2 separate regions of the Homo sapiens genome follow, and region 2 is linked to region 1. Evidence: fine-mapped expression QTL. A gene starts in region 1. The other region holds a variant in brackets. All regions are shown on one strand. Distances are between the middles of the regions. Region 1 holds the start of DPH5-DT (DPH5 divergent transcript). Region 2 overlaps DPH5-DT (DPH5 divergent transcript).

Region 1 (16,601 bases):
CCTGTGGACTGGTCAATGCATACCAAGTAGGAAGATAAAGGGCTTTCACCCCATGGAGCAGTCAGATATATATTAACAAATTAACAAATGCCCACCAGGGAAGCCTGTTTTTAATCACATACATAAAATAAAACTGGTATGAAAAATAATCATTAATTTGATTTCAAATAAGCTTTTAAAAAATAACATGAATGTCAATTATAAAGAATTGTTTTTAATATCACCTTCAACAGAATCTCACTACTTAACATTAAGAGTAAAGAAAACTAAATTAGTTACTTGGTGAGTTATTTAAGCAAATGAAAAACTGGCTCAAAATTACATCTCTATCACAAGTTTATTTAAAATGAGTAGACACATACATATACACACAAACAAATTTACTATTTCTAGGTATATGGCTCTATCTAAAATCATATATGTGTATATGTATGTATGCTCAGAAATAGTAATAAATCTGTCTGTAATAACATGCTTGTTACTTGAAATTGTTCTAAAGGCAATTTCAAGAAAGGAGATCCAAAAATGTTTTGATTAATGGAATCAATAAAATAAAGTACACAAAGGTGACCAATTTGAATATACAAAATTTGATTTTTTTTTTTTTTTTTTGAGACAGAGTCTTGCTCCATTGCCCAGGCTGGAGTGCAGTGGCACGATCTTGGCTCATGCAACCTCCGCCTCCCGGGTTCAATCAATTCTCCTGCCTCAGCCTCCTGAGTAGCTGGGATTACAGGTGCCTGCCACCACGTCTGGCTACTTTTTTGTATTTTTAGTAGAGATGGGGTTTCGCCACATTGCCCAGGCTGGTTTCAAACTCCTGGGCTCGGGCAATCCACCCGCCTCAGCCTCCCAAAGTTGCTGGGATTACAAGCATGAGCCACTGCGCCGGCTGGTATGTTTGTTTTAAATTTTATAGTGTCTCCGTTTTTGACATAAGTGTGGCTGGTGGGCCAGAAATTTAGTAATGTTTGCAATGATATAGCGCAAATGACGTTTTCATGAACTATGGAAGCACTAACACTTGGCACTATCCTTTTGAAAAATAATTGACAATATGCTTTATTCTACAAAATGTCCATGTCCACACCTTTTGATATTTTATTCCTAAAAACCTATTTTGGAGGATCTACCATAAGGAAACAACCTAAAACATGGGGATAAAGAAGTGGGAGGCAGGAAGGTATCATATACATAAATTTACATGTGACAGCTTTATTTATATTGAAGAAAAATAGACTAATAATAATGCTGCCATTGATTTTATAGTTATTAGGTATCAAGCACTGTTCACATTCATTACATGGAATGGAAGCAGTCAGCCTACATCAGGACATATTATCTGTATATGGATGCCACTAAGGAAAAGGCATACAACATAGGGATAAAAATTTTGTATTCATTATAATAATATAGTTACAGAGCATATTGAAATACAGAATGGAATAATAAAACAGAACCATCATTAGAAACAGTGTGTTTAATAAAGACTTCTTATGCAGAGATTTAGGGATAGAATGTTTGAGACTGTCAACTCTCACAGTGATTAAGTTCTATTGATTTAGTATATATTTTTAGACTCATTTACTTTCTTTGTGTGATCTATTTCCATATTCCTTTCAATAACCTGGGTAAAAGAACAAAGATGAGACTACATGAACTTACTTAACTATGACTTTAAATTGTCTTCAAGAACTTCATATTGCTGGAGATGGACAGTGCTGATAGTTGCACAACAATGTGAATGTACTTAGTATGCCACTGAACTGTACACTAAAATGGTTAAAATGACACATTTTGTCATGTGTCATTTTACCATTTTAAAAGTACTGAAAAAAAGAATTTAAGATTCAGCATCTTAAACAATCTTCTTTTTATATATTTTATTTAAATAAGAAGGGGTCTTAAAATTAAATAAGGGATATTTTTTGCTCATATCTAAGAATTTCAGTGCCTTGCTGCATTCTATATTCCTTACCTGATTTCTCCTCCATTTAATCCACTCATATTCCAATTAAAATTACACATTCCCCATCATGCCATTTCCAACTATCATATCCTAACTATAATCTGCCGGTAAATAAAAAATAACTGCAGTACAGTAAATATTCCTTAAATCTGAATTCAAATACAAGGCTATATACGATGAATCACTAAGAAAGGGCAAATTAAAGAAGTCTAAAATGGAAAAAAAAAAGGCACTCCGGAATAAAACAGGAATGAAAGAGGTAGCATCTGAGCTGTATACTAATTTTATAGTACAATTAGGTATAATTAGGAACTGAGAAGAACTCTTTTAAGGAAAAAGCTTGAGCAAAGAAATAGGGGAAGAATATTACAAAACACTTATGAAATGGAAAGTTGTACCATTTGGTTTTAGCATAGCGGTTAAAGAGTAGCTAGAGAAAAAAGAAAGACTTCAAGATTTAAGGCCATGAGAAGTCACTGAAGGTTTTTGAGCATGGGAGCAATTAATTACATCAAGGTACTTTCTCTGTGCCTCAGTTTTTTCATTTATATGAGCATTCTTCCTTCTACCTTTCTCCTGGCCCACCCTATAATCTCCATCTGTTGAACCCTATCCAGACCCAGCGCAAGTTCCAGCTCCTCCATAAAACCACCACTAATCAACTCCAAACATCATGTCTTTAAATTCATACACATATTTCTGTCCTCATCTTACAGTCAAACTTTCAGTATTATATTGAAGGTATTCAGTCTTTCCTTTTTGAATAGTCTCTTTTCCTGGCTTCTGTGACAACATACTCTCTTGCTTTTTCTCCCTCCTCCTCTGGCTCCAGGTACACGATGAAATTCCAAGGTTTCCTAGGGCCATCCTAGGTCCTCTTTTCCCACTCTTCTCTCCTAAGCTGATTCTATCCATTCCTCCAGCTTTAAACACCATAAACATACTGATGACTTCAAAAGCCATTTATCTAGGATGACCTCCCATCCCAAGCTCTAGCAGCAGCTAACTGCCTACTTGACATCTCAAAGTAAACATATTTCCAGAACCAATTCTTGTTTCTCCAAATCCTGTTCTCTACCAGTTTTCAAGTGACACTACCAACCACTCATTTGTAAAGCTAGAATCCTGGGAATCAGATTTACTCCTTTCCTTTTCCTTATCCACCACATTCATCTTGGCATTCTTCTTCTAAATATGTTCCCATCTTTTTCTCTTTTCCACCAAAAACGTTCTTGCCTCCCTAAAATCCATTTACCTAAGCACTTAAAGTGACCTTTTAATGCTAATCAGATTTTGACTTTTTCCTGCTTTGAATCCTGCAAAAGTTTACCACTGTATTTAAATTAAATTCCTAGTCCCCTCCAAGGTCTTACATGGTCCTTATGTTCCTTAAATCTGTGATATAAATCTTAGGTAACCAGCTGTAGACAAAGAACTCTTCTGTTTGGCTTGACATTAGAGATTGATGATGCTTGACTAGGCAGTAGATGCCCATCTTCGTGGTAATGACAAAGAACAGGGTTCCCAATGGATATAAGAAACTGAAATCAGAGACTTGATAAATGATAAATTCAAGGCAAGCAAAGTGACGGCAGTATTGCCAAATAGTAGATGATTACAAAAGGAAAAAAAACCTAGGACAAAAGAAGTCGAAGATGCCTGAAATTATCAGCAGAAAATGGCAGGCATGACTTTTGATAATGTAATGAACTATTTAATAATGATATAGCAGTTAAGGCATTTGTTGCCCTACATGACCTTCTAAAACAGCAGAAGCAATGATACAAACTTTAGAGTTGACACTTGATAATGTAGTGATACATATGATGATATATTTACCAACTAGCTTTTCTTCACTAATCTCAAAGATCATGAAAGTTTAAACTATGACATTTTAGATAGCGCTTAAGTAACCAGAGTTCCTTATCAGGACCTGGCAGGTAAAAGTGTTAAATGCAATAGAATAATTCTTACTGATTAAAAAAAAGTAAATGAGTTAAAAACTCAAAATATCTGCCTTGACTTACCCAAATGGATCACCAACCACAAGGAATGCAACATCACTGATATCAGCATCCTTTAAAATATTATCTGCTTCTTGTTCCACTTCTTCTCTATCAGCAACAACCAATTTTCTTCCATAAAACTCTTCCTACAGATATAAGTCCAATATCAAGATAAAGAGACAGCAGGTGACCATTCTAACACACACACACACACACACACACACACACACACACACACACTCTTTGTTTGGGACTGGTGCATATGTTGGCAACCACCCAAATGCAGATCATTCAATACAACTCATCAGTAAGCCAGTACTTTATGTCATGTTGCAATTAAACTCTGTATTTGGGGCTGTCTTAATATCCCAAAGGAGGCGGAACTCTTAACATCTGAGGCTTTTTGCATTTTAAATTTATTTCTAAATTTGGTTCTAAAGGCCAAATAGAACACTGTAGGATGAATGCGGAATATGTACACATGAGCCCTACTTCAGAAACATGATGTAATACAGAATAAATATATTAAACAATAAGTTTAAACAAACATGGTGGTTTAGCTTTTATTAAATTTTCAATGGTTAAACATATGGCAACTCAGCTAGAAAAAAAAGGCAGCACCAATGAGAAACAATAGAAAATTAGCTGTTTACAGAACCAGTGAACATTCCTACATAAATGCAGAAGATACTAATTTAAAACTATATTCCTTAGTTTCTGCTAAAAAGGCAGAGTTGCAGGAGCAGTAACTGAATTCTAAATATGTAGGAAGTTTGCAAACAAACTGCTTTGTGATTTAATTCCCTGCAGCTCAACTCTAGAGAACAAATCCAGTAGAGAGTGAGCTAGTAAGCTAGTAGTCATCTGATAGTGGTTACGGGCTATTATGCAAGATCATGAATCCTTTTCTTTTTTTTCATCTCGTCAGCCAGTACAGAATGAAGGATCATGAATCTTAAAACTGATTTCCTGAGAAGTAATAAGTAATTCAAATGGAGTAAAACTGGATGCATAGATAAATAATACGGTTTCTTACATACTGAGAACTTTGAGTGAGTTATTAAAATTTATAAGGATTGCTGTAGTGCAACGGTATCTGGTACTCAATAATATCTGTCAAACAAATGAGTACATGAACAAATTATTAAGCAGGGCAGGATCCAGCATTGACCATTTTGCTTGAATCCTACCTTCTCTGTAGGTGTTCTGTGAAGTTAAACTTTGTGTAGCTATTATCTATCCTTAAGAATACAGAGACACAGTACAGTGTAGAGGTCAAGAGTGGTAGACCTCGGCCGGGCGCAGTGGCTCTCACCTGTAATCACAGCACTTTGGAGGCCGAGGCAGGTGGATCACCTGAGGTCAGGAGTTCGAGACCAGCCTGGCCAACATGGTGAAATCTCATCCTACTAAAAATACAAAAATTAGCCGGGCGCAATGGCACACGCCTGTAATCCCAGCTACTCAGAAGGCTGTGACAGAAGAATTGCTTGAACCCGAGAGGCAGAGGTTGCAGGGGGCCGAGATCGCACCACTGCATTCCAGCCTAGGCAACATAGCAAGACTCCGTCTCAAAATAAAAAAACATAATAAATAATAATAATAATAAAAAGAGTGGCAGACTTCAACTCAGGACTGCTTTGGTTCATCTCCTGGCTCTATCATTCACTATCTGCATGAACTTAGGCAAGTTTGTTAACTTCTCTATCCCTGCAAAATGAACAGTAATTAGAATAATAATCCTAATCTACATGTAAAGCATTTAAAACAGTGCACAGTAACTGTTCTGTAACTGTTCTATAAATGTCAGTACTTATTACTGTGAAGAAACAGATATTCCAGCACCTTAACAAAGTACACATAATTTACTGTAGGTAAGGCTGGGTCCAGCTTCAGGTCTTGACTCTGTAAGTAGTAACTCCAGAAGTTTTGTCTTTGGAAAAAAATACTTTACAAAATAACAGCAGCCAAAATTAACATTTAGCTAGCACTGAAAATTTACAAAGCACTTTCATATACATCATCTCAATAAAACACTACATAACCCTCCAACTGGTAATTGCCACTTGACAAATGAAGAAACTGAGGTTCAGAGAAGTTTGGAAATGTGAACATTGACAATTTCTATTTCTGAACAGTTTTGTGCCATATACCATAGTTAAGAACCTATGCTAAGAATTATGCTGAACACCTAAAGTAGATGTTTTTTACCCCATTTAAAAAAGACACTAAAGTTAAAGGACTTGTCCAAGGTCACATTAACATGTAACAAAGATAAAACTATAACCAAACTTTCCTCTATGCCATCCCCTGATATCTCATTCTATCAAACTGCTGTTTTGTTATTTGTCTGTCTTTTCTTGAAGGTGTTAAGTTCCTTTTACTTTTCCTTAATCACTGATTAGAGACGCACATTTCCATCATTTCGAGCTTAGATATTTTGGTTCTATCCTAAGAGTGAAAAAATGAGAAAAAAAAATGTTTTTTAAATCAAAGCTGGCCTTAGGCTGGGTGTGGTTGCTTGTGCCTATACAATCCCAGCACTTTAGGAGGCCGAGGTGGGCAGATCACTAGAGTCCAGGAACTTGTGACCAGCCTGGGCAATGTGGCAAAACCCTGTCTCTACAAAAAATACAAAAAATTAGCTGGGCATGATGGCACCCACCTGTAGTCTCAGCTACTCGAGAGGTTGAGGTGGGAGGATACTTGAGCCCAGGAGGCTGAGGCTGCAGTGAGCCATGATCATACCATTGCACCCCAGCCTGGGCAACAGAGCAAGACTTATTTTCTCTCTCTCTCCACATATATGTATATATCAAAGTTGGTCTTTACACACAACTTTTATTTAAATGCATGGCCAATTCAAGTAGCAGTTCTTAATTCCTTCTATAAGATTTTAAAGTAATCTGAGGCCTAAAAATTTTAAGTCTATTTTTTGTTTGGAAGACATGACAATAAATCTGCTCCCTCCTCCCATAACATATGTATTAATCCTTTGATTTACATTCTACTTAGAGTTTGACAATGAACCTGAAGTTGACCCTTCCCCCAAATTTACTGGGCCCTTATGAGGGCCAACTATAAATGTATAATATACTAACAAATACTTTGGTTACTTAGTGTATACTCATGTAAGTGTATACTCATACATTTTTATATATTAAGTCCAGGCTCACTCAATATATACAAGTGTATCAGTATAAGCCTTATTGGGAGATAGTCTATTTAAGATAAGATCTCTCTGGATAGGATACAAAAAGGCAATCGCCATTCCCTATGGACACACTTCAAAGGGGGAAGCTTTCAGCTTGGTTTTTGAATATATATAACCAACTCATTAAGGCTGTGTCAGCTCCTCATTAGCACTCAACTCAGAAAGGGTTTCTTGACTACCTCATGAAATAAGGGGTTTTGATAACTATCCCCCAGGAGTATAAAATAGCTTTCCTATTTACTGGAGAAAGCCACAAAATTAGACTTGTAAAATAGGACAAAGCACCCTTTCATTTTCCAAGTCACTTGGTTGGTGTAAAATTTCCATTCTTCTGCTCCTCAGATCATTAATGAACAAGGGATGCGTTTCAAAGGGTTTAAACAAGCAGACCTGAAAATTCTGTTCAGCTTAGTGTATGAAAATCAGATGTTAGATAGCTTTCTTCCCAGGAGGCTGGGGAACGCTCAGCACCTACCAAGGCTTCCTTCCCTACAGTTAGGACTGAGGTGTAGGCTTCCAGATACACTCGACTGCAGCGTCTAACAACTTCCAGGCCCTTGACTGTGATGTCCTTGGCATCTCCCAGGCCCAACCCGATGAGATAAAGCATTTCAAACTTGAGGAGAAGAGAGACTGCAAGACGAAGTGGACAGAAAAACCGTCAGTAACACCGAGGACATCTAAAATCTAGTGATGAACACGATGACAACCAAAGTAGCACAAGAGAAGAGGCAAGTCACAAGGAGGGGTTTGGGAACCTTATGTCACGCTTAAGAACTGGGATAAGAGGTTTTAAACAACCCTACCAGTTTTGCCTCTTGTTACACAAACCTAGGAGCAGCCAATTACCCGCTGAGAGAATCGTAGGTAGTTCTCTGGCCTTTACAAATTCTTAACTACCACCTTTCCGCAGAAGCAACTGCAAAAGCGCCGGCTCCGTGCAGAGAAAAGGCCCACGCCGCCGGCCTCACCTACGGTGCCGCAAAATGCTGGTGCCTTTACTGCACTTTACGACTAGCGGGAGGGGGCCGGGCTAGCGGGCTACTGGGCTGCGGAGACCAGAGCCCGGCTCCACTGAAGAAACCCGCCGGCTGCTGGGGCAGGGCGGCGAAAGGTCAGTCGGCCGAGAGGAGTCCGTGGAGCCACCGTTTCATAGCCTCAGGGAAAGGATCGGGCGTGCTCACGAGCCCTCTAACCCATGGCTTAAACACCCGCTTCCTAAGCCTGGGTAAGTGCAGTAGCTCTTCGCTCGAGAGGAGCCACGTGGAAGAGAGTCGGGAGGGGCCCTGCGCCCTACTCCTCCTCTCCAGAAACAGGGAGGGCTGGGAAGGATTTTCCTGATTTGTCCCCGGATTTGGCCGAGTGCACAGATTTTAATTCCAGTCTTCTCATCCTCCTGTAGTTCAACTAGGTGTCTTCCTGGTGAAGCGTGAGATTGGCAAACCCAGCAGTGAGTGTGCTTCTGATTTCCCAACAAGGCAATGACTCCTTGGGTTTGTCCCCAAGACCTTATGCCTGGAGTGCCCCAAGGATGTTTCAGTCACCCTCAGTGTCAGGAATCCCAGACCTTCCTGTACCTAAAGAAGTGACCTTTAATAGTGCTCAGGGATTTCAGACCTCTCAAGTGTTTCTGCCGGGGGAATTCTTATAAAGCTGTTGGTTACATGTAATTAGAAATAGGGAAGATTTGTTTTGACTGAAAATGCTCTTCCCAAGGTGACCTCATCCAAGTTAAAAAAGACAGCTGTCATTGCTTTTCTTAGCAGGCAGTGTTGGTTACTCAGAATTTTCCTGTTGCCTCCCCGACAATGCCCAACTCCGCTTCCTTGAACCTTGGCTTTTTTTCATTCCCAGGTTCCATCCACCTTTTTGCACTTCCTATCTATAAACTCTTCGTGGCTGTGTTTTATCCCCTCTCATTACGTTGATCTATTCCTCACACCACATACACACCCCAAAAAACTCAAAATGGATCGTAGATGTAAATGGAAAACCTAAACCTATACCAGAAGAAAACATAGGAGGAAATATTCGTGACCTTATTTAGGCAAATATTTCTTAAACCAAAAGCGTGATGAAAAAAATTGATAAATTGGACTTCAACAAAGTAAAAATTTATGCTCTTCAAAAGACTTGAAGCCACATACTGAAAATATTTACAAAGCATGTATCTGATGAAGGACTTGTATGGAGAATATATAAGGAGCACTCAGAAAGCAATAATAAAACAGTTCGTTGTTTAAAAATGGGCAAAAGATTTGAATAGACACCAAAGAAGATACACAAATAGCAAATAATTATTTTAAAAGATCTTAAACAAACAAAAAAAGATCCTAAACATCATTAGACATTAGGAAAATAAACATTTAAATCACAATGAGCTACCACAACCCACCTATTAGAATGGCTTAAGTAAAACAAACAAAACCTCACAAAAACTGGCTGTTCACTCAGAATTCCTAGTATCGCTAATATTTTGTAGATTCAAATTTCAGCCTCCTATCCAGACTTCCTCCCTCTTGGCTTCATGTTAACGTTCTGCTGGAAATCTTCACCTAGATAACCCGGAAGCATATTCAACACATCCAAGGTTGAATCCATCACCTTCCCTTTCCATTTTGCTTTTCTTTCCATATTATCTACTTGGATGGGTCGGGGGTGGGGGTGGGTGAGGAGAGTATTGTCATCAACAGATTAACCCCAGCCAGACACTTGGGAGTCACCCCCACATCGTCTGTCATGTCTGCCTGTATATCTCAATAGAAACCATACCGTCTATCACCATCTTGATTCTCAGGTCCTCATTTTGTCACTCTTGTAGCTGATAATAATGTCTCCTTCACTCAAGGGGGTCAGAGAGTTATAGTTAACAATCTGAAAATATTACACCCCTTCTAGATCCTTCTGAGGCCAAGAGAAAGTCCAGGTTTGTTAACATACCCCACAAGATCATTCGTGGTGTGGCCACTGCCTACCTTTTTAGCATCATCTCTCTCCACTCCATACCATGAGCTTTCTCGCTTTCTCTCCAGCAATACTGAATTGCTTGTAGTTCTCTGCCCACAACATGCTGCTTTGTTCCTCTACGCTGCTGCCTCATCATAGAATATTGTCTCCCATTCTCTCCTGCCTAGATCACTAATACCCATTCTTTAAGACCAAGTTCAGGAAGCCTTCCCAGAGACCCTCACCCCCCTAAGCTAATTTAGGTTTCTCCTCTTCATTACAGTATTACTCTACATATACTTACTAACCAATTTATGAGATTTTATATTTGTTCATTTGTATTTCTTCTTTACCAAACTATTGATTTAGTTAATTCAGGGACTGCATCTTATTTGTATGCTCATCTTAGGTTTAGCACTATCCCTTGCACATAATAGGTATTAAATAAATGTTTGTTGAATAAATCATTATTATCCACTAGTAGCTGAGCTACGTATTTTTCCATCTTTATTAATACAGAGGGTGGTATGTTTTAAAAAACTACCAAAAAAATCATTAATGGAATATCAAATATAAATATGCCTGTCTCATGCCACTTTAGAAGGTCATTTGTATTGAAAGGCTTGCAACACACAAAACATATAGTTCATATGCATGCTATTGAGTAGGTAAACACATTTTCCAATGTGTTGATCATTTATGTTTTTTGTTTTCAGATTTAAAAAAATAATAATTTCAGGTAGATTCACAGTGCAAGGACACTGCCAAAAAGGATGATTAAGTAATCTGAAGAAGGTGTGGTTTATCTCCTTTCAGGAAATATATCTATATTGAAAATAAAGTTATTCTGGGTAATCAAGGAAGTGAAACATTGCCTGAAATAACAGTAATAATTTGTTTTTAAGCTTCAAAATGTAGCCAGAGGAACTTAGTTTTACCACGGAGAATTCTTAACAAACAAACCTTTCACCTGCCGTTATTTCTCAATAAGAGTGTAAATTTTTTGTACTTTTCTGGAGGTAGACAGATAAAGGGATTATGGTAATCTTTTTTGTTTTTCCTCCTCAGCTCAACAAACATAAGCTGCAAAAATCTTGCCTATTGGATTTTGCAGAATTCTGTGGGATTTGGACATTTTTCCCTTGCCATTTAAAACAGGTTTCAAATGTGATTACATTTTCCCCAACAATTTATTGTGAAAAATTTCAAACATATAGAAAAGTTGAAACAGTGTCACAGTCAACACCCATATAGCCACCTCCAAGGTTCTAAAGTTTTAACATTTTGCTGTTTTTGCTTTATCACTTATTTATCCTTTTACCCAGATGTCAACCCATCTTATTTGTTGATGCATTTCCAGGGAAGTTGCAGCCATCAATACACATATTACATTTTGCTTGAAACATAAACTCCTCACCTAGGTAATAGATTAACAAAACATACCTAGGCATATAGCTGATTAAATGATATCATTGCTTCACCTAATTTAGGCTGGATTTTGAAAATTTTGCTGTAAAACGATTTCAAATTAGTTTTTAACAAATATTATAGTTTTATAATGATAATGAAAGCAGTTAGAGGACAAATTCTTTTATGTCAGCAAATTTGTAGTCTCATGTCTAGCAGAAGAGAGAGTGATGGTTAAAGAGAAAGGTGATTATAGGACAAAAGAAAAAAAGAAAGATTTTTAGCCTTTTTTGGCTTCAAGAATAACATGGATAGATTAGACCTGAAGAGTTTTCTACTTTGTATTCTTGCTTTCAGGTCAGATGATGCCAAGTCATCCCTGAGGGTGAACATTTATGCTTTTATGAAGGATCTTTAAGATGTTTTTATAACCTTTGCCAGTAACTCATTTTTACTGGCAAATTCTTCCTTATATTTGAGACCTACAGTCAGTAGTCATAAAATGTGAGAGAGATGCAGATAGTCATAAGAAATTAATACTGATGGCTTTTCCATTTCATTGTCATAGACACATCATATGCTACTTTTATTCTGAAGTAATAACATAGTTGAGTCACTGCATTACCTTACGGACAAATTATAATTACCTTACATTTAAGAGAAGTCATCCTTCAATTGTCCTGTTTAAGCAGTTTGTGTATTGAAAAGAAGACATCAGGGTGACTGACTAAACTCCATCTGACCTTACTGTGAATGAAGAATATTATTTTACTATGAAGCTGGCCTTTTAACCTACATGTTCCCAGAAATTGCCTTTGTTAGAGGAAATCTTGGTTAATATTTGTAGAGCTCAGACTCTTAATTGATTGAAGTCATTATTTTCTAACAATTCACAAATAAGTGATAATTAAAGATAACATTGCTTTAGGATAAGGACCTGTATTTACTAAGGTTAAAAGATTTGAAGTTACTTTATTGTACACTTGTTTACTTAGAGAAAAAGTCACTTTTTATAAACCCAGTGATTTTAAGTACTCATCCATACATTATATGTTAATCATATGATGTAAAAATGCATAAAAAACAAATCTAGAGCTATTTTCTGTGTAAAGTGTGGAAATTTTTATTGTCATTCATCCTAGCTTAATAGATTGAATCAGTAACAATATGGACTGTCGTAAAGAAGTCACCTAGAGCCCTGCGTTTTTGTGTAAAGGAGCTCCCAGAATGTTCCCTTAAGTGCCTGTGTGTATGTGCATGTATGTGTAAACTTTCTGTTTGTTTCTAACCCATTTTCGTATATGGCAGGTCCTTCCTCCAAAGTCTATTGCTAAAAAGGTAGAATCAGGGATACATAATTCACTCTTTTTGCATTTAAAAAAACTACAGGCCAGGCACGGTGGCTTACGCCTGTAATCCCAGCACTTTGGGAGGCTGAGGCGGGTGGATCACGAGGTCAGGAGATCCAGACCATCCTGGCTAACACGGTGAAACCCCGTCTCTACTAAAAATACAAAAAAATTAGCCGGGCGTGGTGGCGGGCACCTGTAGTCCCAGCTACTTGGGAGGCTGAGGCAGGAGAATGGCCTGAACCTGGGAGGCGGAGCTTGCAGTGAGCCAAGATCGTGCCACTGCACTCCAGCCTGGGCAACAAAGCGAGACTCCGTCTCAAATAAAAAACAAAAACAAAAACAAAAACTTACAGTGTCCCTTTAAGGTTTTTTAGGGAAACATAGCTAAACTAGCCAAGATTTGGTGGGAGAAGGGGAGTGGTTTCCCTTTCATTCAAAAGCCAAAATTCATAAAAGCGAACTACCAGGCTGTATATTAGCCACACACACATACCCCCACTATCTACACCACTCCCCTAGTTCTCCAGCCTCACCTCCTCGTCTCCGTACCCCTGGCCCCTACAGATAGCTGTGTGGCTCTGGCTCCACTTCCTTGAAGTCATTGTTCAGAATTCACTTCCTCAGTGAGGGCTATTTTATGTAAACTACAACCAACATTTCTAATCACTTTATCCGCTTATTTGCCCCTGTAGCATTGCTCACTTTGTAACACAACTGTCTAGTTTACTTATTTATTATGATGTTTTTTGTCCACATCCTATTAGAGTATAAGCACCACAAAGGCAGGATTTTTTTGTCTGTGTTATGCTCTAATGTGAAACAAACAGCTAGAACAGTGTTTGATGCTCAGTAAATATATATTGAATGAATGAGTATACATCTACACATGGTAATAAGTTATAAATAAATTTCTGGAGGAGAAGAACTGAACAGAGGGGATTTTTTATAATGATTGAGAACTCACATTTTGATGTCATTCAGACCGTGTTTAGTCTAGGCCTTTCACTCAGTAGTGTATTCCTTGCATTCCCTTTTTAAACCTCAGTTACCTATTCTATAAAATAGAGATAATAGTAACATCTTTCATGGGATTATTGTGAGGATAAATGAAAAAATACATATAAAGGGTTTAGCATACTTTCAGACAACTAGTAAAGACTCAGAAAACATTGACAAATATTGATATAGAGTTTGAAATTAATTTTAGAATTATCTACAGTGTCTGTCAGATTATAATATGAAAGTCAAGTCCACCTAGATTGGTTCTTATTCTTTTCCCCATTCACAAAAGTTATATGAATCATTTACATAATTCAGTAATTATAGACCAATCCACTAAATAGTTTACTGATTGACAAAAGTCATCTTAAGCAAGCATTATTATTTTAATATTATTCTCTGAGGTATTCTTTCTGAGAGAAGCTCTTCATTTCAATTATTCTGTCATTGAGTTCAACACTATAGACTTGGTTGGCACCAAAGAAATGTTGTCTGGCAATTTGTTAAAACTTAAAGTAGAACTTAAAGGAAATGGAGCCAAATGTGGTGGTTTACAGCTGTATAATCCTAGCACTTTCAGAGGCTGAGGAGGGAGAATCACTTGAGCCCAGGAGTTTGAGACCAGCCTGGCCAACATACCAAGATTTCGTCTCTACTAAAAATAAAAATAAAAAAGTTAGCTGGGCATGGTGGCATGCACCTGTAGTCCCAGCTGCTCAGGAGGCTGAGGCAGGAGGATTGCTTGAGCCCAGGAATTTGAGGCTGCAATGAGCTATGATCACATCACCGCACTCTAACCTGGGTGACAGAGTGAAACCCTGTCTCAAAAAAAAAAGTGAATGGACTTTGCTTCTTAGTAGTTTAGTAAACAAAATCTGCTAGTGAGCAGAGAAAATGTTCATTTGGGAACTGAATTCTTTTTTTAAAAAAGCTTTTTAGATGCCCAACAACAATAAAAAGAATCATTGTGTTATGTGATACATTCATATAATACAATGCTATACAGCAATCAAAAAGAATGAATTACTGCTACATGAAACAACCTGGATGAATCTCACAGAAATGGGATATAGATTACATAAAGCAAAGTCCACCAAATTTTAAGTATACAATTTTTACGTATGTGTATAACCATGTACCCATCATTCTGATAAAGATGTGGAACATTTCTGGCATCCCAGAGGGTTCCCTTTTATCCTCTCCCAGTAAATGCCCCCCCGCCTCCGCCCCACCTCTCCAAGGTAACCGAACCACTATTTGACTGTAAGTTAGTTTTGGCTATTCTTATACACGGAATCATGTAAAATGTACCCTTTCGCGTCTGGCTTCCTTGGCTCTGCTTTACTCATCCATGTTCTGTGTAGTAGTAGTTCATTCTTTGCTGAATAGAATTCTGTTATATGAATGTACTACTATTCATCTTCTTTATTTTTGATGGATGTTTCAGTTTGGGGCCAATATGAATAAATCTGCTATGAACATTGTTGTATCTGTCTTTTGTTAGACATTTAAGTATTCATTTCTGTTGGGTTATATTACCTAGGAATTGGAATTGCTGGGTTATAGGATATATGTTTTCACTTTAACAAATTGTGCTAAACAGTTTTCCAAAGTGTTTGTACAATTTACATTCCCACCAGCAATAGATGCAAGTTACAGTTGCTCTGTATCCTTGTCAACACTTGGTATTGTGATACCTTTTAATTTTAGTGGGTGTGTAGTGAGATATCGTTGTGGTTTTAATTTGCAGCTCTGTGGTGGTGTCAATTGCCTCATATGTAATTTTTTTCAGTTATTTTAAATTTTCAGTTATTTAATTTTTCAGTTATTTTCTTTATTCAGTATGAATAAAATCAATATCACTTTTTGTATTGGACGAAAGTGCTTTTAAAGTCAGTATTAATTAAAACCTCTTCAAAGTCAATTTATTTATTTTTGAAGACAAAAATATTTCTTTCTCCCACCACAGCAATATTTAAATGTGGAATCTATACTTGTAGTTGAGTAAATCCATTTGTGAATAAGATACTTCCTTTAAAGGGGCCTTAATAGATTCACTAATAAATATGTGTGAAATATGTTTTAATGTATTGAAAGCACTTAGTGCCTGAAACATACTAAGTGCTAAAGTTATTTTAAAATAATTAAAATATACTTTAAAAAAAAAATATATATATATGTTTTGCCTGGAGAGAATACCTGTTGTCAGGACACCCACTTCTCATTATGCCTCTGCTGCCAATAACTATGTGGGTTTGGACCATTTTTTGCTATCAGTAACATGAATGCTTTTAGTTAGATGATTTCTAAGTCACATTGTAGGATTCAGTAGCTTCCTTTTTGGTTAGAATGGAAAAAACACTAGACCGGTAATCAGTCAATGTAAGTTATTTACACTTGTGGACCTTTGCTTTGTTTCATGACTCAAAACCCAATAAGAAGTATCTTTCCCCTCCTCCTCCTTTTCTACCCTTCCTCCTTTAATAGATTTCGATATAAAATTGCAAGCAATACAGTAATTCCTTAAACCTGGAAATTAGCATAACCAATATAAATTTTTTTTAAAAAACGTTAAGTTACTAAATTTTTTATACTAATAAACTGTAGACCTTGAGTTATTCTTCACATAACTGTACTTCACTGTAAGTACAGTGATGTTTTTCATAACTAGAAACTTTTTCAACCAAAATTAAACCGATATCTATATC
Region 2 (16,601 bases), 50 kb after region 1:
TCCTTTAGGTGTATACCCAGTAATGGGATTGCTGGGTCTAATGGTATTTCTGCTTCTAGATCTTTGAGGAGTTGCCACACTGTCTTCCACAACGGTTGAACTAATTTACACTCCCACCAGCAGTGTAAAAGTATTCCTATTTCTCCACATGCTCGCCAGCATCTGTTGTTTCTTGACGTTTTAATAATCGCCATTCTGACTGGCATGAGATGGTATCTCATTGTGGTTTTGATTTGCATTTCTCTAATGATCAGTGATGTTAAGCTGTTTTTCATATGTTCATTGGCCACATGAATATCTTCTTTTGAGAAGTGTCTGTTCATGTCCTTTGCCCACTTTTTAACGGGATTGTTTTTTCTTGTAAATTTGTTTAAGATGCTTGTAAACTCTGGATATTAGATGTTTGTCAGATGGATAGATTGCAAAAATGTTCTCCCATTCTGTAGGTGAGGATTGCATTTCTTAACTAAAATGCCCTCAAACCAAATTGTCACAATACTGGCCTTAACCAAGCCATTTATGCCCGGTGTTCCATTTTTTGATTGCCACATAACATTATGTGAAACACAATAAAAACTTTTTCTCTTCAAATTCTTGTTCCTTAAATTTTTGCAGGTTACATATATGAATTTTATGCAAAAATTCAAAAAATTGCAACCTCAGGCATAAATGGGTTATGAAGACTAATTTCTACTTTAAATTATTTTTCAAACTTAGATGGATCATCCTATAAGCATATTAATTCAATCTTGGAAAAGACTTGCCTGGTAATATGGCAGAAGCTCTAGTTGTCAAAAAGTCTTAGAACAGCTTGACTATTTCTCAGGTTTTCCATCTTTCACATCTCTAAAATGTTCAGTGCAAGTTTTTAGTGAAGCAGAGCTGATATTTTTGTAAACTTATGGTATATTATTGATAATTTTCAAATAAGAGAAAATCTAGTCTATTAGCTAGAATAGTTTCATTTACTTCAATTATTTATTCAATAAACATTTACTTTGCATTTATTATATTCCAGAATTGTATTAGGTCCTCAAAATACAAAGATATAGAAAGGCTTTTTCCTCAAAACAGATTCGTAAATAAATAATTGCAAGATGATATGGCAAGTGCCTACTATATAGTAGTTGCTCATTAGATACTTGTTTAATGGATGAATGATGGTAGGACCAAGAATGAAATGATTATCTTTGTCCGAGGAAGTCAGAGAAGGGGGAAGGAATCACTTTTGACCATTAGCTCCACGGGAAAATGGGGAAAGGGCATTATCTTGTTCACTCCAGCATCTAGCATAGAATCCAGCAAATAATCAGTGCCCAGTAAAAATGTATGGAATGAATAAATGGATGAGTGAATGAGGGGATGATTGAACAATGTCTAAGGCAGGAGTAAAATTTAGGAGGCAGGAGCACATTGCTTGTAAAGGGAACAATGTATACAGAAGGCACAGAGATGTGGAAATGTATTATTCCATTCCAGTAATAATTTTGGATTTTCATTTAAAGTACTCTGTCACATATACACTAGAGACATAATTGTTGGTACACATGCTTCTTTTTGTGTATTTCGTATGAATCTACTTGCATCTAGAAATTTTCTACAATGCTATTGGTAGATGTATATATATATTAGCCAGATGAAATATTTATGTTTTTAGCACAGAAACTTGTGTTGCCACAACTTATTTTAAATAGTATATTTATAAGCAAGAACAACTCTGAAATCAGAACAGATAACATTGTCCTAATAATACAAAGATTAATTCACAGAGCACATTTGGTGGGAAAAAAATTATACATTTTGCCACATAGTAAAGAGTATTATCTTGTCCATTAGTTGTGCAGTTAAACCTTTATCAAGGTATAACAAGCCCTCAAAGTGATTTCAATTGAATGACAAAAGGGATGGAATAAAATTCATTTAAAACTGGTTCACACCAGCTCTCCTGCGTGTTCTATTAACTGCTAAGATCAAGTCACAAAACATTATTTTGAGGAGAAAGGGTTTAGTGAACCCTAGAAATTGGGTTTGATTTATGCCAGAAAATCTGCCTTTTCACTGCTTGAGATTTCTGTGGAAGAAAGCCACAGTCTTTTACCAAATGGTTTCTAAGGAAACCCCTTATAGCACAGCATTGGAAAACAATTTAGTTGTTAATGAGAAATGGTTCTCACGGTGGGAAAGTGTTGACTGAAAGAAAAGGCTTCTGGAGTTAGCGGTCAGTCTGTAAAAAGTGTTTACCGCTCTACAGTTAACGTTTATGAAATTTCTACATAGAGCAAACATTTTTAGGTCCCATTTTGCAGTTATTCTCGCTTGTAAATATATTTTTTAAAGAAGCTAGGGCAATAGAAAAGTTTTTGTCTAAAAGTTTAGATACTTGAACTTGCAAAAATATATTCAAACAAGTTGTCTTCCAGAATCTGTGCACTCCGGTGAATTTTTCAGTTTTGGAATTGCAACATTCTAGAATTTATATGTTAGCATTAAAATATAAGTAAATTAATTTTGCATAAAATATTTCTAAAAATCCTAAAATACAGTAGGGTATTTATATATTTTTAAAACATTTTAAAAATGTATTCTGAAATGTCCCATAAGTTGTATTTATTTTACTTCTTTAATTTCTGCATAAAAATAAAATAATTAATTGCAATGAATATTTTAACTATAATCCTTTTATAAGAATTTCAAGATTAAATTTTAATATCTAATGAAGCACTAAACCTTGTAGTTAAAAAATAAATGCTAAATATATACAAATTCTTCTAAATGTACCTATTGAAGCCAGATTCCAAAATAACTACACCTGTATTTTCCTGATAATCTTTAAGTAGTGAAAGCCAAGGAAACTCATGCAATAACTTTAAATAGATTTTCATCTGTAGCATGATTCAGAAACATGAATGAATATATGACAGGAACCAAAAAAAGTGACCATCAGAAAAGTTCAGAGGAAAATATTTAGAAATATTTCTTGCTTTGGGATTGTTATAAGTTTTCAAGTCTGTTTAAAAATATAACACTCAGTTGTTAAGTCACTTGAAAGCCTATTGGTACATCGCTTTGCCGAAAGCTGCCATCAGTCCATCTGTCCACAAGTGTGTTTTCTGCTTTAGACTTTCATACAAGACAGAGTTGCCAATAGTCTTCATGTTGTCTTCCGTTGTTTTCCTCATTTGACCCCCACCTCCTTTCTCTTTCTTCTCTGGTCTTTGAACTTCCTCCACTTTGGGCAGCTGCTTTCATTTGCAGCTCTGCTTTGAGCAAGGAAAAAATTCTGCCAATGAAAACAGGAAAAATAAGAAAACAAGAAGGGTTGCAAGTGTTTTGCATGTGTTGCAGCTCTCCGGCTGTCCACTTTGGGGTCTTCTCACCATTGGGTAGTATACTGAGAAGGAATCTGTTGTTGGAAACTGACCCTAGGTGACCAGAGCTTATCTAAGGGACACTTTTTTTGTCATCTTAGAATCAATAAATTTATAAATCATTTGTGTTAAAAGAACTGTGAAAGTGATATTTTATGTTTACTCACCCACTCCATATTCTGAGGTATATATTTATCATTTGGTCTGGTCAGATCTATGATATTGTCAAGTTACAGTTATATATATATATATATATGACTATATGATGTATATATAATATTTTAGAGACAGGGTCTCACTCTGATGCCCAGGCTGGCCTTGAACTCCTGGGCTCAAACGATCCTCCAGCCTCAGCCTCCCAAGTAGCTGGGACTACAGGCGCTTGCCACTGTGCCCGGTTATAATATTTTTGATTAAGACATTTGAGAGGGAGAGAATATGGCCTTTTTTTTTTTTTAACTCTCCTTCATTCCCTACAATACACACAAAAACCCCCACAGGGCAGGAACTTCTCTAACTTTCTCAGAGTAGTATATGATAGATATGCATGTACAATACATGAGAGTACTTCATAAATATTAGTTCATGGAGATAATGAAGAAAACATCTTTTCTAAGTCAAAAAATAGGAAGCAAATTCTTAATAGTTGCTGTTATTATGCCAATATGCTTGAGTTTGAAGTTTAGTGAGATCTTTTTTGAGTGGCTAAAAAAGGGAAGAGATGTAAGTCTTGTCTTCGTTGATAAAACATCAGGAGGATAGATTGATGGTGGTATCTAAATAATATACTCAAAATTAGAGTGTAGTTTCTGCCTTGGCACATCTGTCTTGTTTCCACTTCTTTGCTTCCTCCTTTTTCCACAGTATCCACTGCAGCACCACAGGATAGCTCCCCAGATAAGGCAGCAATCTAATGGGGCAGCTGTAGATCTCTGTGTTAGAATTAAGAAAGGAGTATTTGTCATTACTTATGTAACCCACTCTGCATCCACACTGACATATATAGCTGAATGAAGAAATCGCTCAAGCAAAATGTTGCCTCCCTTTGACCTTGTCTGAGTGCCATTCATTGTTGTTATCAGAGCTGAACAGTAAATGGCAGGAACCACATAAGAGTTGTAAACAAGTACACATGAGAAAAAGAAGTAACTGTATTTGCTGAGTCAAGATCCATGTAAAGGAGAGGATCACATTTCCCTTTCTTGGAAACACTTGAAAATATTTACAGTCTCAAGTTCAATTTAAAATATTCTTATTAAGTGTCTACTCTGTGTTAGACTCTTCACTAGTAACTGTGAATACAGAGATAATGAAGTATCTTGCTCATGGAAGAACTCACAGACTAGACTTATGATAACCTCTCTTCTCCTTAGAATTTGGAGGACTTTAGATGGTTTCCCCTAGATTTTTGTTTTGTTGCACAGTGTTACTCTTATTCTCTTAATCTCTAATGAAAAGCCTATTTGGTGGTATAGTACGAGTCCTAATGATGAATGAGTCCTAATGATAAATAAGACATCATTAGGACTTCTACTTTTTCAGTCTGTTTTACGAGTCCCACTCCACTAGACTGGGACCTTCTGGAGGGCAGGTTCCAGAAGGTCCCAGTCTAGTGGAGGAGTGAGACTTGTAAAATGGAAGTTATAGTACAATTTTTATAGAAATGATCAAATCATATTCTTTCTGAAACACTTAACTTCTGAGATTGATAGATCTTACCATTTAAATGAGTATACACATAAGGTGTTGTAGCATTGTATCTGGCAGACTGAGAGGACATAAAAGATGTTAACTACCTGCTTTACCATTATTACCTTTACCTTTCCTGTTTCACTGTTCTTATGCCAGATATTGAATACAAATCTAGCCCTTCCATATTTGACCTCTTTAAATGTCTCATTAACAAATGTCAGTCTACTTTCTAGGTGACATGAGACTCCTTATGTATCAGCATATCATTATCACTTCTGTTCTTCCACAGTTCCTGAATATATCACATGTGGTGATAAACATGAAGATGTATGAAAAATTGTGTTCGTTGAGAGAAAATGGAAGGCTTTTCATTCTACTTCCACATTTTCATTCCAGCAGCTTTTCTGTTTTGGAAGATGAGTACTGAATCTTGCAATGAAATTTTTTTAACTTAAACAAGGTATATTTTAGCGTGTTCCGCTATGGATGACTGTCTGATGCCGTCATGAATATTCAATTAACTTTTATTTTATTTTTATTTTATTTTATTTATTTATTTATTTTTGAGATGGAGTCCCACTCTGTCGCCCAGGCTGGAGTGCAGTGGCATGATCTCGGCTCACTGCAACCTCTGCCTCCTGTGTTCAAGTGATTCTCATGCCTCAGCATCCTGAGTAGGTGGGACTACAGGCATGTACCACCATGCCTAGCTAATTTTTGTATTTTTAATAGAGATGGGGTTTTACCATGTTGGCCAGTCTGGTCTCAAACTGCTAACCTCAAGTGATCCACCTGCCTTGGCCTACCAAAGTGCTGGGATTACGGGCGTAAGCCACTGTGCCCAGCCAAATATTCAATTAACTCTTAGATCAGCGTTTCTGAACCTCAGCTCTGCTGACATTTCCAGCCAGATAATTCTTTGTTGTGCGGGCTGTCCTGTGTGCTGTAGGATGTTTGGCAGTATCCCTGGCCTCTACCTACTAGATGACAGCATCCCTGCACATCTCTGACATCCAAAAATGACTCTAGACATTGCCAAATATCCCTGGGGGGTAAAATCATCCCCAGTTGGGAACCACTGCTTTTGATCATCTGGCCATTGATTTTTGGCCAATAGGATGGAGCTATGTGACTACAAGGGTGTGTGGCCTTTCTTCTGGTAGGTGTAGGACTTCAGTCTGCCATGCTCCTTCATATACTCAGTGCCTAATTTGTGCAAGGTAGCAGCAAACCATGAGGAGAAAGGTGGTCCATGTCTTGAAGAAACTCATAGTCTAACAATTTGTAAACTAAGTTGATTTTTCAGGTTTTGGAAATATGCTAGGTGATTCTTGATAATTCTTTGAAGTGGTACCTTGAGCTTCTTAGATAGCTGTGATAAATTTCCAAAGTTGGATATTATTATGTGTTATCAAAATACTTTCAAAGCAGTGGAAAACCCCTATACTTTTCTTGAAATTTTTCATTGAATAGTTGACTCTTGTGTAAGGAATAGATTGAAATTTGCAGCTTTGTTTTACTGGGATATTTGCTTGTTGTTTTAATGTTTAAGCCTTATCCCTCCAAATCTTTTATAAATCAACACTTGTATTGTAGATTTGGAGGATAATAACAGCACCTGTCCTGATACATAGAGTTCTTATTGTTTAGACAGCTGTCTACACTGAACATCAGCTGTCTGTACTCTGATTTCAGGGGTGTGTATGTGATCTAGGTTTGGACAATAAAAATATTGAACCCTCCTTCCCTGGACCTACAATTGTTTAAGGGAAGGAGACATGCAAAAGTTGGTATAAATTTCAATTCTAAAAGAATAATTGTACAATAAAAAATCTTACAATCGTGTAACTGAAGCTAACGTAAGTGTTCAGCTTACTATCAAGTACATAAAAACTTTAAAAATCCTTTAAAAATAACAAAAAATTCCAAATACTGTAATTAAGCATTTGATTCATTTAAAATCAAGTATGGAGCAACATACAATATAGCATTTAATATCACATTTGAACTGGTAAATCACTAGGACAACTTAGTTAAATAGTAATAAAAGAATTAATCCCCAGGATTATAGCATTTCTGTGGCATTTATCTAGTCCTTTGTACATAACAAAGTGATTCAGCTCTTCATTCATAAAACTGTGTTAGGAATCTGAGTTGTATGGTTTTCTGTGTGACAATTTAGACATTTTAGTCTTTGCATTCCAAAAACACTAGGAAAGTTGTTATTTGTTTGAAACAGATTCCAATGATCTGTTCTAATTTATTCTGATGAAAAGGGTAAAGGGAAATTTCTCTGACTTCTAAACTAACTTGAGAGATTTTCCTATTGCCTCAGTCTGTCCTCCCACCCCTAAGGTACATAGAAAGACAGATATGTGTGTACACACTATAACATTGTTTAAATGATACTCATATTATTGTTCTGAAATAGCCATACTTTAAATGATTTCAGATAATTGGCTTCAGTTTTGCTAATATAATTTATGTAAGTCATATGGCTAGGTCAAATTTAATAGAAAATTTGGGAAGAAAGATATTTAAAAATATATTTTATGATGAAAACTATCTTGATAAATTTCCTTGTTTATTTTATATGATAAAAATCATTGGTTGCTCCCTAATAAAATATCATTTCACTTACATTACAGTGCTGGGCATGTATTACAAGTTGCTCATTTTTAGAGCTAATTTATGTAGCATATTTGCATGTGTGTGTGTAAAAGATTGTGACAGAGATAAGAGAAATAAGTGAAACGTTCACTTATTCACAATATAAGTGAATATAATCTATTAATATTCAAATTAAAAACTAGATAGCAAGTCAGTAGTTCATTTAGTTGAGAAACTTAGGGGAGGATGGGCAACTAACAATAACGGTACTATTATTATCATTCCTTTTTTACAGACAAGGAAAATGAAGCGCAGAGACGTTAAATAACTCTCTCAAGGTCATGCAGCTGAGAAGAGATGAGACTTGAACTCCAGTGCCAGCCCTGTTAATCACTATTCTGTACTGTCTTTCAGGTTCTTATGCCTTTGTTTGAAAAACATGGTTCCCTGTGAAATTTTACA[T/C]GTAGAAGAAAGCTTCACACTACGAGAGCTCTCAGGATATAATTATTTCAGACAGATACTGGGAACATAAGATGGCTTATCAATCTAAGATGGCCTTCCTGTCCTTCGGATTGAACTGAAACCATCCCTGATTCCAGGGATAGGTAGATGATCCAGGTTTGGACAATCAAAATATTGAACCACCCTGGACCTACAAGTGTTTCTGGGATGGGAACATGCAAACGTTGGTCCAAATTGTTGTTCTAGGCAGCCCAGTACATTTCTCCAATGCCTGGTAAGCTCTAAATATCTCTAAATGTTTGTTGCAGAATGAATGAGAATAAAAGTATTCTCTTAGAACATATCCCTGACATTAGGTGTGGGATAAAAGTGGAAAATGCAGTTTGCCTCATAAAAATAGCTTTCAGAAATGACTTTTCTACAACAGCCATTCACCAGTATTCTAAAGGGCACCTGTCAAGGAGTCACTGCATTTTCAAAAGTACATTTATTTTCACATCACTGGCCAAAGTTGATCTATTATCATCACATTAGGCCCCTAGTATAGAGATGGCCCCTAAATTAGAAGCAGATTTGAATTGTTGAGACCTAAAAGCTTAGTTCCCTTAGAAGACTTTTTACCTGAGGGCAGGAGGTATAGTGAGGATCACCTGCTTTGAGTCATACTGGCCTGAGGTTGAATCATAACTTTGAAGTCAACTGAGGAATTGCATACTATGCATAGCATGACCAGCGGCATACTATGCAATTCCTCAGTTGACCGAGTAATTATACCCACCCATAGGATTGTTTTGTGAGTTAAAGGAAAGCTATATATACTTACATAAAATAAGCTGTATTATTTTACTTTCTTTTACAACTCTCAGTTGCAGGGATAAAAGGGAAGGAAAGAAGGGAGGGATGGAAGGAAAGAATAATGGAAGGAGGAAAGGAATTATAAAAGAAAATTGGCTAAAAAAATTAACTCATTACTAAAATATTAAGGGTTCAAACAGTATTCTCAGGACTTGGTATCTGCATTTCTACAGCCTATTTTTCTTAATACTTGCTTTAACTGTCAAAGGAGTTATTTCCTAATGTCATCCTTTAGCAACTCTAAACTTACATCTTGCCATTTTCTAATATAACATAAAAAAGAGCAACTCTCCCTGAAATACCTATAGAAGTCTTGGCCTCACTTTGATGAGACAAACTTGCATGTTTCTGTTCCTAAAACAACTGTAGATCCAGGGGGGTTCAATATTTTGATTATCCAAACCTAGATCACATGCCTGTCCCTGAAATCGGATAGTTTCAGCTCAATCCAAAGCAGGGGGACCGAAGGCACAGGAAGCACGGTTGTCCAAAGAAAATTGTTGATAGTGTTACCAAAAGAAAGGGGAGTGAATGTTAGATGGTAAAATCAGAAAAAAATGTCCACTACACTGTCACTTAACTAAATAGCAGTTATTATTGTGTTTTGTGCCACTTACAGATTCCTATTAAACCTACTACTACATTTTAAAAAATCGCTCTATTTAACAACTTTATTCAGAAAATATATTTAGATTTCCAATTTGGGATATTGCGATACATCTTCTACCTTTGCTTCAAGATGAATATAATTAGCAGGAATTCCTTAACAGGCCTATGTGGAACTCTCATTTAACTTTTATGAGCCTCAGTTTTCTTCCCATTGTCTAGAGAGTTACCCAAACAATTTTCTTTACTTTTGGCCAAGGTATCTCTGCTCCCTGCAGAATATAACAGATTGTTGTCTTATAACTTTTCTCCTTTTCTCTTGTTCCAGAAGCAACAGTTACTTCTTTTAGGCTATTTTCTGTTTTTGTTTGGTTTTGTTTTGTTTTCTTTTCCCTCAAACTGCTAATAACTATATACATACCACTACTTCTCGCTTCTCTTTTTTTACTTTGGCTCTAGATGGAATGATAGGGTATGCATAAATGTTCATGTGGGCTCTGGAGTATACCAGGAACTGAAGTAAGGTACATGGACGTCTTGAATATTGTAACTGAGATGGGCAAGCCTACACCTTTGCAAATAAAGGAGGATTGGGAAAGATTAAGGTGAGCTTTCTCGCAAACAGATGGGTCATGGGAATAAGGAATTCTGAATGCATGAACAGTGATGCTGAAAAGCAGGGGGTCTTCAAACTATACTCAAGGGCCAAATCATTGCCTCTTTTTATAAGTGAAGTTTTATTAGACTACTGCTCCACCCATTCATTTAAATGTGGTCTATGGCTGCTTTAGGACTTAAAATGCCAGAATACTTGTGACAGAAACCTTCTGGCCCTCAAAGCCTAGAATATACACTATCTGGCTCTTTAAAGAAGTTTGCCAACACCTGCTCCATTGTAAGGAGGATATTAGTCGGGTTCTAACAGAATTGCTTGTTGAACTAGGGTTTAAAACACATGGTAGAGACTCCACTGCCATAACCAGAGAGAAGACTGCCAAGAATTAGGCTAACTTGTTCTCAGGCAAAAAGGCTACGTAAAAGGCAGAATCTCAGTTCTGCAGGGCCAGTGCAGGAGGTGAGGAGGCAGGGGTTACACTGGTGTCCGTGGGTCATTGTTCATGCAATGGATACTCGGTCTGGTTGAGGGATACATGCAAGGCTAGAATTTGTGCTGAGTCACCAGATTTAAGATCTGGGAAAAAATAATGTACATTTCTTGACTTCAAAGACGTGGGGGCCATTAATCCAGATTTTACCCTTGTTGAACTAACTCAGGAATGGAAAACACTCTTGGTGAGGAAATGGGACACTGAATAGGGATACTTCCTACCAGCCCAAGACTAGGGTTAGGGAAGGACTCACTTATTGGTAAGAAAGGATTTTTGCCTCTACAGACCTTTACTTAGACCTGTACTTAAATGAGGTAAGAAGTGAGAAAGCAATATTTCTCAAGTGCCTACAAACCTGAGGAGTCTTTTTCCATTTGTATGTTACTCAAGATCTCAAAATGCCACAGCTCTTTAAAAGGGCTTCTTCTCTCCTTTGTATTGGTGGCTTGCAACATGCTATTTGAATCTTTCAGCAGGCTGACCTGTTTGGCTAATGCTATAACCCAAATTAATTGTTCTTTCCTCTATGTTTTTATTTATTTATTTATTTATTTATTTATTTATTTATTTATTTTTTTGAGACAGAGTCTCGCTCTGTTGCCCAGGCTGGAGTGCAGTGGCACCATCTCGGCTCACTGCAAGCTCCGCCTCCCGGGTTCACGCCATTCTCCTGCCTCAGCCTCCCGAGTAGCTGGGACTACAGGCGCCCGCCACCACGCCTGGCTAATTTTTTGTATTTTTAGTAGAGACGGGGTTTCACCGTGTTAGCCAGGATGGTCTCAATCTCCTAACCTCGTGATCCGCCCGCTTCGGCCTCCCAAAGTGTTTTTATTTGATCTTATCACAGTAGTCAGCATATTTTGCCTTGTATTATACTTATATGTGTACATGTAGTCTTCCCCCAGACTAGCCATTACTTGAGAGCAAAATTTTAGCCTTATCCGTCTAAATATCCCCCAAGTGCTTATCTAGTGAATGCCTAATTGTAATGCCTATTGACTTAAATGGAATTTAATTAAATGGGGTTTGTTATATTCTGCTAAGACTGTAGTAGATGTAGACACAAGTCTGATTCTTTTCTTATAACTACCATTTTCCCCTGTTATGGATATATCAAATTACTTACCACCCTTAACATCTCCTCCAGATTAATTTGTCTTGTGTAAGCCCCTAGTTGACCAAAGCTGATGGCTGATTAAATTCCCCCAAGGGAACTCAGCCACACAGCCACATAGGTTTTTTTTCTTTTTTGGTTGCAAAAAGCAGAAAGGTGCGTATGCAACAGAGACCATCTTAAACACGAGAATTATTAGAGTAGCTCACAGAAAGGTATCACTGAACAAGCAAGCTTCAGGAGGTTAGAAACCAGGACAATTCTGAGGACTCGAGCATTGAGAACTCATGAACTCTTTGACCCAGAGCACCCCAAGGCACCTCCACTTAAGACTCAAATTCGAAGGATCTGTGTAAGCCAGCTTGATTCAATAATCTAATTCTGTGCTCAGGAAACAGGTGGTTCCTTTTTTTTTTTTTTTAAATCAGAATTTGGAGTTAAGAGGATGCAGGGAGAGTGGTAGACAAACGGAAACAAGTGTTACCATAGCAATCTATTAGAGGGCAAACTAAGCCACCAGGAGTCTCTCAAGAACAAACAAACAAACAAACAAATGTTATGAATGACTTTTGGCTTAAATGTCATGTAGACTAAGACTGGAGGCGCAATGGAGAAGGAGGGAAAACTGAGAGCTGATAGAAGCAAAATGAAGGATAGGAGTGAGCATCCCCTAAGATGGACAAGGTGCCTTCATTTCCTAATGGTTTCTCCTCTTCTTTTCTTTGAACCTACCAATGTGTGGTTATTTTCCTTGCAATATTGTGTTGTAAGATATCCTTCCAATTTAGAAACAGAAAGGGTAGTAATTGCCTCATGTTAGAATATTTAGCTATAGAATAATAGGAATCAAAATTATTTTAGACATCAAAGAGTATGGAAAATCAAAGATAATCTGAGGCAGCAAGACACAAATCCCATTTGTCAATTCTGCCATTTGGTGATCATGATGGTAGTGATTTGAGATATGTCTAGCTAAGTACCAAGCACTGTTTTAAGTATTTACATATATTGTTCTCTCAAAAACTCTGACGTGTAGGTAGAATTATTAGCCTCATTTTACACATAAGAGAGCTAAAGTATACAAAGAATAAGTAATGGAGCCAGGATTCAAATTTCCTAATTCAACATCAAAGCCTAAATTCCTGAAAGTGCAAGTCTCTCACAAACTTCAGGAATTCCACAGCATACCAGAAATCTTAAGTTTTAGGGTGGTTCGAAACCTTATAAATCCCTTTGAGTCAAAAATTTCTCTTTTTTTCCAGATCCTGTTAAACGTCAGTGTTACTATTTAGCCTTTGATATCTCCAGTAAAGGCAACTTCTTTCTGGACCCAGAAATAAAGCTTTACATTAGCAGCTTCCATAACACCAATAACATGAATGACCATCTACTGAGCAATTGCAGTGCACCAGGATTATGGCTTATGAGCACTTTATGTTTATTATCTCACAACTCACTGAGTTAGATACTCTCCACAACCCAGTGAGGTAAATACTATTACTTCCACAGTATATATTATTATATAATAAAATGCTTAGAATATACACACAGTAACTAAACACTACTTATAAAATATGGCTCTAGATATGTTTGATAAATATTTCCTTCATGAAAACATGGAGGAATTAATTAGCAGTATCTCTCTGCAGCCTTTAGCCCTCGAGAATCATGTAGAAAAGAGGAGCTGTCTTCTCTTTTAGCAGAACATCTGTCAGAGATGGTTTCCCCTGACTTAGACAATTGTGTTTTTTTCCCTTCAGAATGATTGAGTCTCAGAATTGTTCTTTAATCCTCAGTATTTCCATTAAGAAGAGCTTCTATCAAGTGCTTCAAAAGTACCCAATGTGAAGGAGTAATAATGACTCCCTGCTGGTGAGCGAAGTGTGGAGGACACAGGTCCCTCAGCCGTCCACTGGATGCTGCACTGTTTGGCCTGAGCCAACATGGGCAGAAATACAGGCGGCAGCATAAGCAGATGCCAAGAACCTGTCTTGCTTCTACTGTTTTCATTGGGTTACTATATCTCCTTTGTAGTCCAACCTGCAAATTACTTTGAGAAGGGGAGATACACCCCTGGACCAATCTAGGACTATATTTGTTCCCTTGCTAAAGTAGGAAAAAAAATACAGAACCTTTAAATATTGAACTCAAGGGCAACTAATTTAAATTCCTTTCCTTTCATGTTGAAAGTCTTTTGACTGGGTTATTCTGAAGCCATAGCAATTAGGTTACAGTTTACTTCTCTGTTACTTTACCATCTTTAAATTTGGCACCTTCAAAAGGTTGTTCTGTGCGTTTAAAAAAAAAAAGGAACTACCGTTGGATATTGTATTGTTGATGACCATTATTTGATTCTGGATTCTTTTGTGTGTTTGTGTTTGGGTGTTTTTGGTTGTTGTTTGTTTGTTTTCTAGAGACGGGGGGTCTCACTATGTTGTCCAGACTAGATTCGAGCCCCTGAGCTCAAGGGATTCTCCAGCCCCAGCCTCCCGAGTAGCTGGAACTGCAGGCACCCGCCACCACGCCCAGGGACAGTTACTTGATTCTTAATAGTCCAGTCATAATGAGACAGGATACTGCATAAGCCAAAGACCACACAAAGTATCAATGTTAAGTATCAAGAGGGTGTGGAGGAAGTGGGTTACAACCACTTTGTCTCCCAACTGTTGTATGTTTTGCCTTTAAAAATTTTTTTAAGTACGTTAAATTCTAATGTACTCAGATGTGGCTGAAACAATGACAAAACATTAGTTTTCTTTAAATATGCGTGACTTTTAAGCTTTTTCCCTTTCCCAGTGACTTGCTTCTCCACTAAGCTCTTTTTTTCTTTTTTTTTTTTCCTCAAATATTATTGTTTCATGTCACTGTGACAAGTTTAGTCTACTGGAAATTCCTATGTCCTCTGTAATTTAGGTTTTAAGCAACATATGATTTATCTTGTTATTTTAAAAAAACTATCTGCCTTCCCTAAGTGGGCAACTCTCTGGCATCCTTAATATTCTTCTATAGAAATTGTGATGAAAGAACAGATAAGCCTAAGTAAATCTAGCGTGTGGAGCTCCTTTAAAATGTGAAGACCTTGCCAACTGGTTAAAAATAAAACTTGGTTTTGTCCTAAATATCCTTGCTGGGCCTATTATACATAAAAAAAGGGGCCACAGCCCATTTGCAAGGCTTCTGAATGAACTCCATTCATTCTGTACTTGGAAATGTCTCTTCAGCCACAAAAAGAAACAATAGTTATAACCTAATTTCTTTGGTGCCAATATCAGCAGAAGAAGAGCCAAGAGACCATTATGAAAACTCTAGTAAGTTCTCTTGGTGATTATATAATGCTGTATTCATTGATCATATTTCTGTATTTAAATAAGTACATTTTTTAAAACATCATAAAGTGGATCAGTAATGCTGTAATATCACATTTCATGTATTATACAACATTTTTGAAATGGAGTACTCCAAAGTAATTTGCTTCTTATGGTTACCAAAGTTTAAAGAATACCCTAACATGCACTCCAAGATTTTAAGAGGAAAGGCTTTGTGTTTTTCATTACTGTATTTTGAAATCTGAGAGTGCAAAACTAGTTTTCTTAGGTAAACCCCGTAATCAGTTTCCACATTTACCTGTAAAAGTCAGTGGAGGGCATACATCTGGAAGTAGTAGTGGCGGTACACAATGTGTGTTAATATGATTTCCAAGGGGTATCTAGAGTAAACTTTCTTAATCACAGATCTGATCTGAGCATGCCACTCCTTTCTTAAAATCTTTTGTTGATTTTCCATTTCCCTAAAAGGAAGGCCCACTGGAGCATGGGCCTTGCAAAGTCCTCTTTCTGGCTTCTGCCTGCCTGCCTTTTCAGCTTCATCTCTGCCATCTTCCCTGAATGAACTTTTGTCAGTGGCCTCGCTCTTTCTACCTATGAGATGTTGTTTCTGCATGTTCTTGCATGGAATTCTCTTCCTCCCAACCCTGTTTCATTCCTTTAATCTGTACAACTCTTTCTTATCCTGAAGTCTTTATGTTAAGGTTGCCTTTTCAGGAAGACTTTTAATTGTATTAGCTAATTAATTAATTAATAGTCTGAGGTATTTGGAGCTGAGATTCTATGGGGATTAGTTGCTGGAGGGTAGTTTAGAGCCAGATTGTGAAGGACTTTCTAAACTGTGCTTTCAAGGTTTTGAACAGGAAAATGATGTAGACTTTCTGTTTTTTGTAAGTTTGGAGGATGGCTTGTGTCTTAAAAGAATATGTAACATAACCATCTAATTTGTGAGTAGTGGACTAAGGAAACACCACTCTAACCTTTTTCTCTCTGCGATAATCCCATCTTCAGCCTCTCAAGCACTGTGAAAAATCACTTTCTCTTGTTGTATTCTTGGAGCCCCTGCTAATTCATTATTGAAAAATACCTGCTGCCTGCATTTGGCCTTATGTTGTCATTTACTTGGTAAGTAAAGCTAAATATAATATTAACTAAAATTAAAAGACCATTAAATTATTGGATAGTGTCTACTATAGTGGTTTAGAGTACAGGCTCTAGAGAGATCTGATTTAAAAGTTTTGCTCTGCCACTTGCTAGCAATATAGATGTGGACAGGCTATTTAGATAATTTACTTAGCAAAATAAACTTGAACTGAAGGGTAGGAGATTGAGGCAAGGAAGGTAGACCCTAAAGCAGTTTGCCAAATACAAAATCTCTTGGAATTTGAGAGTGTTATCTAAAAATCCATGTGAATCTTGTATTCTCTTCCATAATACATTTCTGTTTGTTTTAATATAAAAA

Evidence for each region. PIP is the estimated chance that this variant, and not a neighbour inherited with it, causes the effect.
Region 2: its variant is fine-mapped to the expression of DPH5-DT in fibroblasts (GTEx, PIP above 0.99).

What each region holds. Positions count from the first base shown.
Region 1 is chr1:101,017,645-101,034,245 of GRCh38, forward strand. It overlaps DPH5-DT (DPH5 divergent transcript), which reads left to right and starts at 8,202. Exons shown (of 5, transcript NR_109849.1): 1 at 8,202-8,417. DPH5 (diphthamide biosynthesis 5) reads right to left here and starts at 8,140. Exons shown (of 8, transcript NM_015958.3): 1 at 8,039-8,140; 2 at 7,665-7,822; 3 at 3,997-4,121. The coding sequence starts at 7,799. RefSeq lists enhancers at 7,670-8,869, 7,962-8,071 and a silencer at 9,863-9,922.
Region 2 is chr1:101,067,311-101,083,911 of GRCh38, forward strand. It overlaps DPH5-DT (DPH5 divergent transcript), which reads left to right. Exons shown (of 5, transcript NR_109849.1): 2 at 8,085-8,406; 3 at 10,053-10,198; 4 at 16,151-16,264. Among named protein-coding and RNA genes, the nearest start is that of DPH5-DT, 50 kb to the left of the region's middle. RefSeq lists a silencer at 14,355-14,434. The variant T/C (reference allele first, on the strand shown) is at 8,133.